Linked DNA regions of Homo sapiens: region 2 is linked to region 1. Evidence: fine-mapped expression QTL. Tissue or cell type: sun-exposed skin. Region 1 holds a variant in brackets; the other region holds the start of a gene. All regions are shown on one strand. Distances are from middle to middle.

What was found. PIP is the estimated chance that this variant, and not a neighbour inherited with it, causes the effect.
Region 2: it holds the start of SLURP1, and the variant in region 1 is the best candidate, but not a certain one, in a credible set for the expression of SLURP1 in sun-exposed skin (GTEx, PIP 0.71).

What each region holds. Positions count from the first base shown.
Region 1 is chr8:142,761,144-142,765,268 of GRCh38, forward strand. It overlaps LYNX1-SLURP2 (LYNX1-SLURP2 readthrough), which reads right to left. Exons shown (of 5, transcript NM_023946.5): 4 at 3,893-3,997; 5 at 3,195-3,598. The coding sequence ends at 3,462. SLURP2 (secreted LY6/PLAUR domain containing 2) reads right to left here. Exons shown (of 3, transcript NM_177458.3): 2 at 3,893-3,997; 3 at 3,195-3,598. The coding sequence ends at 3,462. It overlaps SLURP2-AS1 (SLURP2 antisense RNA 1), which reads left to right and starts at 1,922. Exons shown (of 2, transcript XR_007061134.1): 1 at 1,922-2,352. The variant C/T (reference allele first, on the strand shown) is at 2,258.
Region 2 is chr8:142,740,595-142,744,719 of GRCh38, forward strand. It overlaps SLURP1 (secreted LY6/PLAUR domain containing 1), which reads right to left and starts at 1,812. Exons shown (of 3, transcript NM_020427.3): 1 at 1,734-1,812; 2 at 1,209-1,328; 3 at 355-682. The coding sequence starts at 1,791. The coding sequence ends at 549.

The sequences.
Region 1 (4,125 bases):
TGGTTTCTCACGCACCATACAATCCACCCGTTTACAGTGGCTAATTCAGTGGTTTCTCACGCACCATACAATCCACCCGTTTACAGTGGCTAATTCAGTGGTTTCTCACACAGCATACAATCCACCCATTTACAGTGGGTAATTCAGTGGTTTCTCACGCACCATACAATCCACCCGTTTACAGTGGGTAACTCAGTGGTTTTTACCATATTCGCAGTTTTAGCCCATTTTCATCATCTTGAAAAGAAACCTTGAACGCTTCAGCGCTATCTTTGCTCCATTCACTGTGAGAACGTGAAGTGGTTATTTTGTGAGATTGTGAGATGGATATTTTGGTTTTCTGACATTGCTTATTTTGTGAGATTGTGAGATGGATATTTTGGTTTCCTGACATACAGCTCTTAAAACCCTTGGAATCTCTGGAGTGGCAAGGGCATCTTTTGTATGCTAATGAGAGGACTGGTGACTGGGGGTCCCCAGGGAGCTTCAGGATGAGGGACAACGGGATTAGAGAGCTGGGACTTCAGCCCCACCCCCAGCCTTCAGGGGAGGGGAGGGGCTGCAGGTTGGGTTGGTCAGTGGCCAGTAGTTTAATCCATCATGCCTACGTAATGAAGCCTCTGTAAATTTCCCAAAAGGACAGGGCTCAGGGAGCCTCCGAGAGCAGAACATGCGCAGGTGTCTGGGGGTGGCACTGGGAGGGCCTGGAAGCTCTGAGCCCCTCCCTGTGCCTGCCCCACGCGTCTCCCCCACCTGCTGTGCGTCCACACCTTCGTCACAGCCTGTGTCATAAATGGGTAAACGCGGCTCAGTGTGTCCCTGAGTTCTATGAGCCGCTCCAGCAAGTCATCAAACCCGAGGAGGGGGTTGTGGGAACCCTGATTCATGGCAGGTTGGTCAGAAGCACGGGCCACACCTGGGGCTTGCGACTGGCATTGGAAGTGGGGCTCACTGCGTGGCACTGAGCCCTCCACCTGCGGGATCTGACGTGACCGCCACAGGAATGGTGTCGGAATTGAATTGAGGACATCCAGTTGGTGTCCACGGCAGTGTGGCTTGGTTGCTGGTGGAGAGAAATACACACACTTTGGTGATGGGGTGAAGTACTGTATTGTGTGAGAGCAGGAAAAGTACTCTGGCTTTTCCCTATTTCTTTTTGTTTGTTTGTTTGTTTGCTTTTTAAGATGGAGTCTCGCTCCTTTGCCCAGGCTGGAGTGCAGTGGCACCATCTTAGCTCACTGCAACCTCCGCCTCCCTGGTTCAAGTGATTCTCGTGCCTCAGCCTCCCAAGTGGCTGGGATTACGGGCATGCGCCACCACACCTGGCTAATTTTTGTATTTTTAGTAGAAACGGAGTCTCACCATGTTGCTCAGGCTGGTCTCAAACTCCTGACCTCAGGTGATCCACCCTCCTCGGCCTCCCAGTGTGCTGGGAATACAGGCGTGAGCCGCCACACCCGGCCTTTCCGTATTTCTTAATAATCCCTGCCACCACCTAGCAACCACTCATCTCCTTTTCCTCCCTATAGAGCTCCCTATTCCGGCCACTTCTGAGAAATAGAACTGTACACTGCTTGGCCTGTTGTGCGCGGCTTCTGTCTCACTTAGCATCGTGTTTTCAAGCACCCCCCGCGTGTTTTCAAGGCTCTCCCGTGTTTTGGCGTGGGTCGGGGCTTCATTCCTTTATGTGGCTGAATAACATTCTGTGGTGTGGGTCTGTCATCTCTGTGATCCCTCCATCAGTTGATGGGCATTTGGGTTTTTCCCGCCTTTTGTCTGCTATGAATAATGCCACTGTGAATGTTTGTGCACAGGCTTTTGTGTGGACTCGTGTTTACTCTTCTTGGGCCATGCCTGGGCGTGGAATTTGGCCTGGGGGTGGAATTTGGACCAGGTGGGGGGGCGGGGGTGGAATTGCTGTGTTTACAGCAACTCTGTCCAATCCTTTCAGGAACGTGTCTTGCTTTTCTATTCTGAATTATCTAGCATTAAAAAACCTCCTCTTTTTACATCGAAACCTCTCATTCAGTTGGCATGCCTTTGGCTGTAGCGAGAGAGGTGATGATCCAGCCTTATCCTGTTCTCTCCACAGTGCTCCACGGCGGCTGCCAGTGAGCCCTGTCCCTCTCCTGCAGATCTGAGAAGTGCTCCATTGTCACCTCAATTCTTGAGCTTATCTGGGTATCTCCAGCGCACCCTGTTTATGTCTTCTTCTGTGCCCGGGGCTACTCTGAAAGTTGTCCTGCACCTGAGTGTC[C/T]GGCGGCCCTGCCTGAGACACCCCCTCCTTGTGGAGCAGCTTAACAATTGCATCAGCTTTCTCCTGTGCTGATTCTTCATGAGAACGTTGCCAAGGTGAGAACAAGAAAGGCCAAGGAAAGGGCCTGGCGGTGTGTTTCTTGGCAGGTGCTAACTCAGTCGGGGGGATCTGGGTGCTGCAGGTATTGACTCACCTCGGCCTCTCCGAGGGGAGTGCCAGGCTTATGTGGGGGTCTCATTCAACCTTGCAGCCCGAAGCTCGGCCATGACGCAATGTTGCCTAGGGAGTGATCAACTTCCACAAACATCACTTACCTAGTTTCCATGTCCACCCTGAGATGGGTGGCCACAGCTGCCCATCACCTCAGTCTGATTCATCCCACTCCCAGCATCTCTCCCCAGCACCCTGCCTTGTGTGCTGGGTACCCAGTGGCCCAGAGGAGCTGGAGGTGGTGTTCCCTGCCAGAACTGGGGGTTTCCTAGAGAGGGGCAGGCCGGGCCACTGGCCCAGGGGCATGTATGAGGGCGAGGGTGAGGATGCCGCCTCACTCTTCTCCCTATTCCAGAAGGCCTGCTGCAGCCGTCTTTGCCAATGGCACCTCCTCCCTTCCTCCACCCCGCACAGCCTCCATGTCTCAGCCGGGGTGTCCTTTTTCTGAGGTTTCCCAACTCACGCTCTGGGGTGGAGGGCTCCTCATGTGCCCCAGCCCCAACTCCCACTCTAGCTGCTTCAGGAGAAGCAGCTGCCCGGGGTGCCTGGGCCCCCGTGCCCTTCAGGCCTGACAGTTGGCTGGAGGCGGGAGGGCCTGTTCCGTGATAAGGGCAAGTGGGGGTGGGGTAGTAGGGTTTAGCCTGGGGTGAGGGAGCGAGGCACCCCCAAATCTACTCCACTCTACTCCCAAGCCCAGGATGGCAGGACTCCACTCTCACTGCATAGCTTGTACCACACGATCCAATCACATTTTATTGTGGGGAGGTCGGGACCTGAAGGGGCGGCAGGCACGATGGGCCCCAGGCTTGGACGGCAGCAGATTGAGGCAAGACTCCACGCAGGACTTCCCTAGGACAAGCGGTGCTGGACGGTGGCTGCAGAGGCCGGGAGAGGTGGGCTGGCCAGTCTCGAGGGAGGGGCAGCTGTGAGCCCTGGCGCCAGGCTGTGGGGGCTGTGGGGGCTGAGCGTCCGGGGGCCTGGAGGAGGGCAGCCGTCAGTCATGGTTGCAGAGGCTGGTCTGGCAGCAAGCGATGGATACGTAGGGGCCCAGGCCCAGGCTGGGGATATCGGGGCAGCCTATGTGGCACATCTTGGTGACCAGAGGCAAATCCTCGGTGTTGCTGAGGACCCCTGAGTGGGCAGGAGAGAAACCATGGAGCTCCCTGAGGCTCTGGTTTGCCCAGACCCTGCTGCCCCATCTGCCACTGAGCTGAGGGTCAGACGCCCCAGGTACATGAAGCATACGGGCCCTCCTGGGGCAGACGTGGCCCTTTGCTCATACCCTTCCCTGGGCATCACTGGCGGACACTCCCCACTATGCTTCTGACTTACTGGGTGCCTGGATCTGGCTCTGTCACCCTCTGAGCCCACATCTTCCCACCTGGGCAAGAAGGACGTGGCCAGCCCACCACTGTTCCCACTTACGGGTGGCAGTGGTGACACAGTGGGTGGAGTCCCTCAGGCATCTGGATCCATGGGAGCACCCTCCGAAGCCCGTGCACTGGTGACACCATATGGCTTCGGCTGCAGCTGCGGACATGGGGACAGACAGGACACAAACGGATGGGAGGCAGGTGTGGGCCACCTTCTGCAGTGACGGCACGCACTCATCTCCACCCAGCAGCCCATGCTCCTTCTCAGCGGCCAGTGTCCCGACC
Region 2 (4,125 bases), 21 kb before region 1:
AGAGCCAGATGTATCCACCCTTGGAGGAAAGTGGATGCCAACTCTGAGCTTCCTTCCCTCTCTAGGGTGGGAGCGATGTCTCCAGGGTTTACAGGGGAGATTCTTAGCGGGAGATGTTCCCTGGGCTAGGGTACAGGTCCTGGTCTGAGATGCCAGGCTAGTTTGCATCAGGAAAGGGGCCCAGGAGGCATTTCTTCCCCTAAGTCTCTGTTTTCCTATCTGTGAAATGGGTCACAGAGGCTCTGGGTGAGAGGGAGGAGCAGGTGCCTAGAATGTGCTGTCCTTCAGCCTGGCTCTCCTGAAGGCCAGTTCTGTAGGGTGTCAGTGCCCAGGAAGGACAAAAGTCATGTCCACTCTTGGCTTAGTTATGTTTTATAAGCGTGGGGTATGGAAGGCAGAGGGCGCCCCTGGTGTGCTTCTCTCCCCTCAGACCCCATGAGTGAGCTGTGCCACAGCAGCAGGAAGCAGGGGGAGGTGATCACAGGTGGAGCCAGGCCCCGTCAGAGAGGAGGTGCCTGAGGAGCACCTTCCGCCCTGCCGCCCTGGGTTCAGAGTTCCGAGTTGCAGAGGTCTCGGAAGCAGCAGAAGATCAGGTGGGCGGCCCCGATGCTGTCGGGGTCGGTGGCCACACAGGAGCTGGAGCAGGAGCGGGTCACCACGGGGCTCTGGTTGAAGGGGTACTCTGCAGGGTGGGCCAGTGTCAGAACCCTCACTCCCCTGCAGCGCCTGCCTGCTGCTGCACTGCTCCCAGCCGCCGTCGCCTGACCTCACCCTCCCTGTGATCCCTGTTCCCAATAGTCCACATCTGTGAAGCCACCCAGGGCCCAGCCCTCCTCTGACTGTGACCTGTTCATGAATTATTAGGCCTTGTCAGACCTCTGAAGTGCCTGCGCTGAGATGGGAGCCCGAGCCCAGAGGCTGTGGCAACACCACCCAGTGGGTCTGTGTCAGAGCTGGGGTTTGAGCCCCCCAGGGTACCCCGGCCATTAAGCCCCACCCACCTCCAGCGCCTGGTGCCCCAGGACTGGGTCTCTGAGGGGGCTGTGCCACCCTCGTGGAAGGCACCCCTGCCAAGGTGTGGCAGCCTGTTCTGCCCATCCCACCTGCTGCCTTTTGGGCCGGGAGGAGCACCAGCAAAGGAGGGAGGCACTTGGGGGAGGTGGCCCTGACTCCAGTGCACCCAGGGCTGCCGTGGGGCCTGGCCTCACCTGCCTCCACCGTCACCAGCGTGGTCATGCAGGCTGTGTCCTCTGGCTTGCAGCGGGTAATGGTCCTGCAGGAAGCACTGGTCATGGGCTCCTTGCAGGTGTAGCACTTGAGGGCCTCACCTGGGTGAGGGATGGGGGCAGAACCTCATCACCTGACCTCGGTGGCCTCATCCTGGAACCAGGAGGCAGGGGCTGAAGGAGTCTCGCTGACATCTTTCAAGGCCCCGGGCAGCCCTTCAAGGGGCCTCTCTGGCAGCTTTCTCTAACTGAGCTGAGCCACAGACTTGAATGCTGCATCCCTCCACCAAGCCTCAGTCTCCCTTCCTGCAGAGTGGAGCCGTGACCCCTGTCCCAGGGTGAAGCTGGGCTCTGGGACCCAGGAGGCTCACTGAGAATGAGGAGGGTGAGCCTCATGGAGGCCTAAGGAGGCTCTCAGCCACAAAGCACCCCCAACAGCCCCATCCCCCTAGGAGGTGGGCAGACAAGCTCAGAGGCAGGGTCCCCACCAGCCTGCGGCCCACTCACCACAGCCCATGCTCCAGGCTGCCACGAGCAGCAGCTGCACAGCCCAGCGAGAGGCCATTGCTCCGTGCTCAGAAGTGATGAGAGGTAGCCAGCCTCACATCAAGGATTTATACCCAGGCCCTTGGGCACCGGCTTCTGGGCGGTGGCAGAACCGGCCGTGTGAGTCAGGAACGTGGTAAAGGGCCCAGTGGGGAGGCAGCTGGCAGGAACATGGCAGACGGGCAGGGAGCTGGATCTGGGAGCTCTGTCTGAGGACGATGGCCAGGCCTCTGCTTGCACACCTCCAACACTGGGGAACTCACTGTTCCTCAGCCATGTCCAGTGGTCCTGGGACAGCTCTGACAGAGAAGGCCTTTCCTGCTGAGCTCAGACTGCCCCTCTGATGAGCCCCCATGTCCTGGCTGTGCCTCTGGGGTTCACATAGGCCACCCAGCCCCAGCCTGGGGGACCCTTAAGACCCAGGTTCAGTGTAGCCTCTGCCCTTGTTGCTCTAGCCCCGCCTGGCACCCCTTCCCTGCAGCCTGGCCTGCAGCCCTCTCCACAGACCTCTACCTGGTCTGTGTACACCTGATACACACCTGCAAAGTAGAAACCAGAGGTAGGAAGCAGGTGTCAGGTGAGGGTAGCATGGGCCAGCTAGACCACTCTCAGGCTGACAAGGTTGGGCCCAGGAGTGGCCCCTCATCACTGCCAGCCCCTTCCCACTAATGGCCTTTAGACCAAACCTGAGTTTCTTGATTTTAGGCGCCTGACAATAAGGTTCTGCTCACCCTCCAGCCTCCTGGCCTGACTGTGTTGTCTGCTCTTTACTGCGTGCCCCCCACGACACCCTGTTCCACACGCATGCCTGCCTATGCCATACCGCTCAATGACCACATTGCCTGGTCTCCCATCTGATGTCCCACATCTTCCCCATGCTGTGAGACCCACTAAGGTGCCCCTCTCCACAGTCCTTCCAGGTATACCAGCCTCTCTGGTTTCTCTGTCCTGTGATGTCCCAATGGGTGGTTGTATAGATGGATGAGTTGATGGATGGATGGATGGGGGATGGATGAATGGGGGATGAATAGGCGATGGATAGGGGATGGATGGATAGATGGGTGGGGGATGGATGGGTAAATGAATGGGAGATGGATGGGTGGATGCATGAGTGGATGGGTGGATGGATGGGTAGATGGATTAGTGGGGGATGAATATGGGATGGATGGATGGATGGTAAGAGATGGATAGGAAATGGGTGAAGGATGTATGGGTGGATAAGTTGGGGATGAATGGAGGATGGGTGGGGGATGGATGCATAGATGGATGGATAGGTGGATGGATGGATGGATGGGTGGATGGATGGGTAGATGGATGAGTGGGGGATGAATATGGGATGGATGGGGGATGGATGGTTGGATGGATGGGGGATGGATGGGAAATGGGTGGAGGATGGATGGGTGGATGGGTGGGGGATGAATGGAGGATGGGTTGGGGATGGTTGGGTGGATGGATGGATGGGTGGATGGATGGGTAGCTGATGAGTGGGGGATGAATATGGGATGGATGGGTGGATGGTGGGAGATGGATGGGAAATGGGTGGAGGATGTATGGGTGGATGGGTCAGGGATGAATGAAGGATGGGTGGGGGATGGATGGATAGATGGATGGATGGGTGGATGGATGGGTGGATGGATGAGTGGGGGATGAATATGGAATGGATGAGGGATGGATGGGGAATGGGTGGAGGATGTATGGGTGGATGGGTGGGGGATGAGTGGAGGATGAGTGGGGGATGGATAGATGGCTGGATGGGTAGATGGATAGATGGATGGATGGGTGGATGGATGGGGGATGGATAGGAAATGGGTGGAGGATGTATGGGTGGATGGGTAGGGGATGAATAGAGGATGGGTGGGGGATGGATGGATAGATGGATGGATGGATAGATGGATGGATGGGTAGATGGATGAGTGGGGGATGAATATGGAATGGATGGGGGATGGATTGGATGGATGGATGGGGGATGAATGGGAAATGGGTGAAGGATATATGGGTGGATGGGTGGGGGATGAGTGGAGGATGGGTGGATGGATGGGTGGATGGATGAGTGGGGGATGAATATGGGATGGATAGATGGATGGATGGGTGGATAGATGGGGGATGGATGGGAAATGGGTGGAGGATGTATGGGTGGATGGGTGGGGGATGAGTGGAGGATGAGTGTGGGATGGATAGGTGGCTGGATGGGTAGATGGATAGATGGATGGATGGGTGGATGGATGGATGGGTGGATGGATGGGTAGATGGATAAGTGGAGGATGAATATGGGATGGATGGGGGATGGATGGGGAATGGGTGGAGGATGTATGGGTGGACGGGTGGGGGATGAGTGGAGGATGGGTGGGGGATG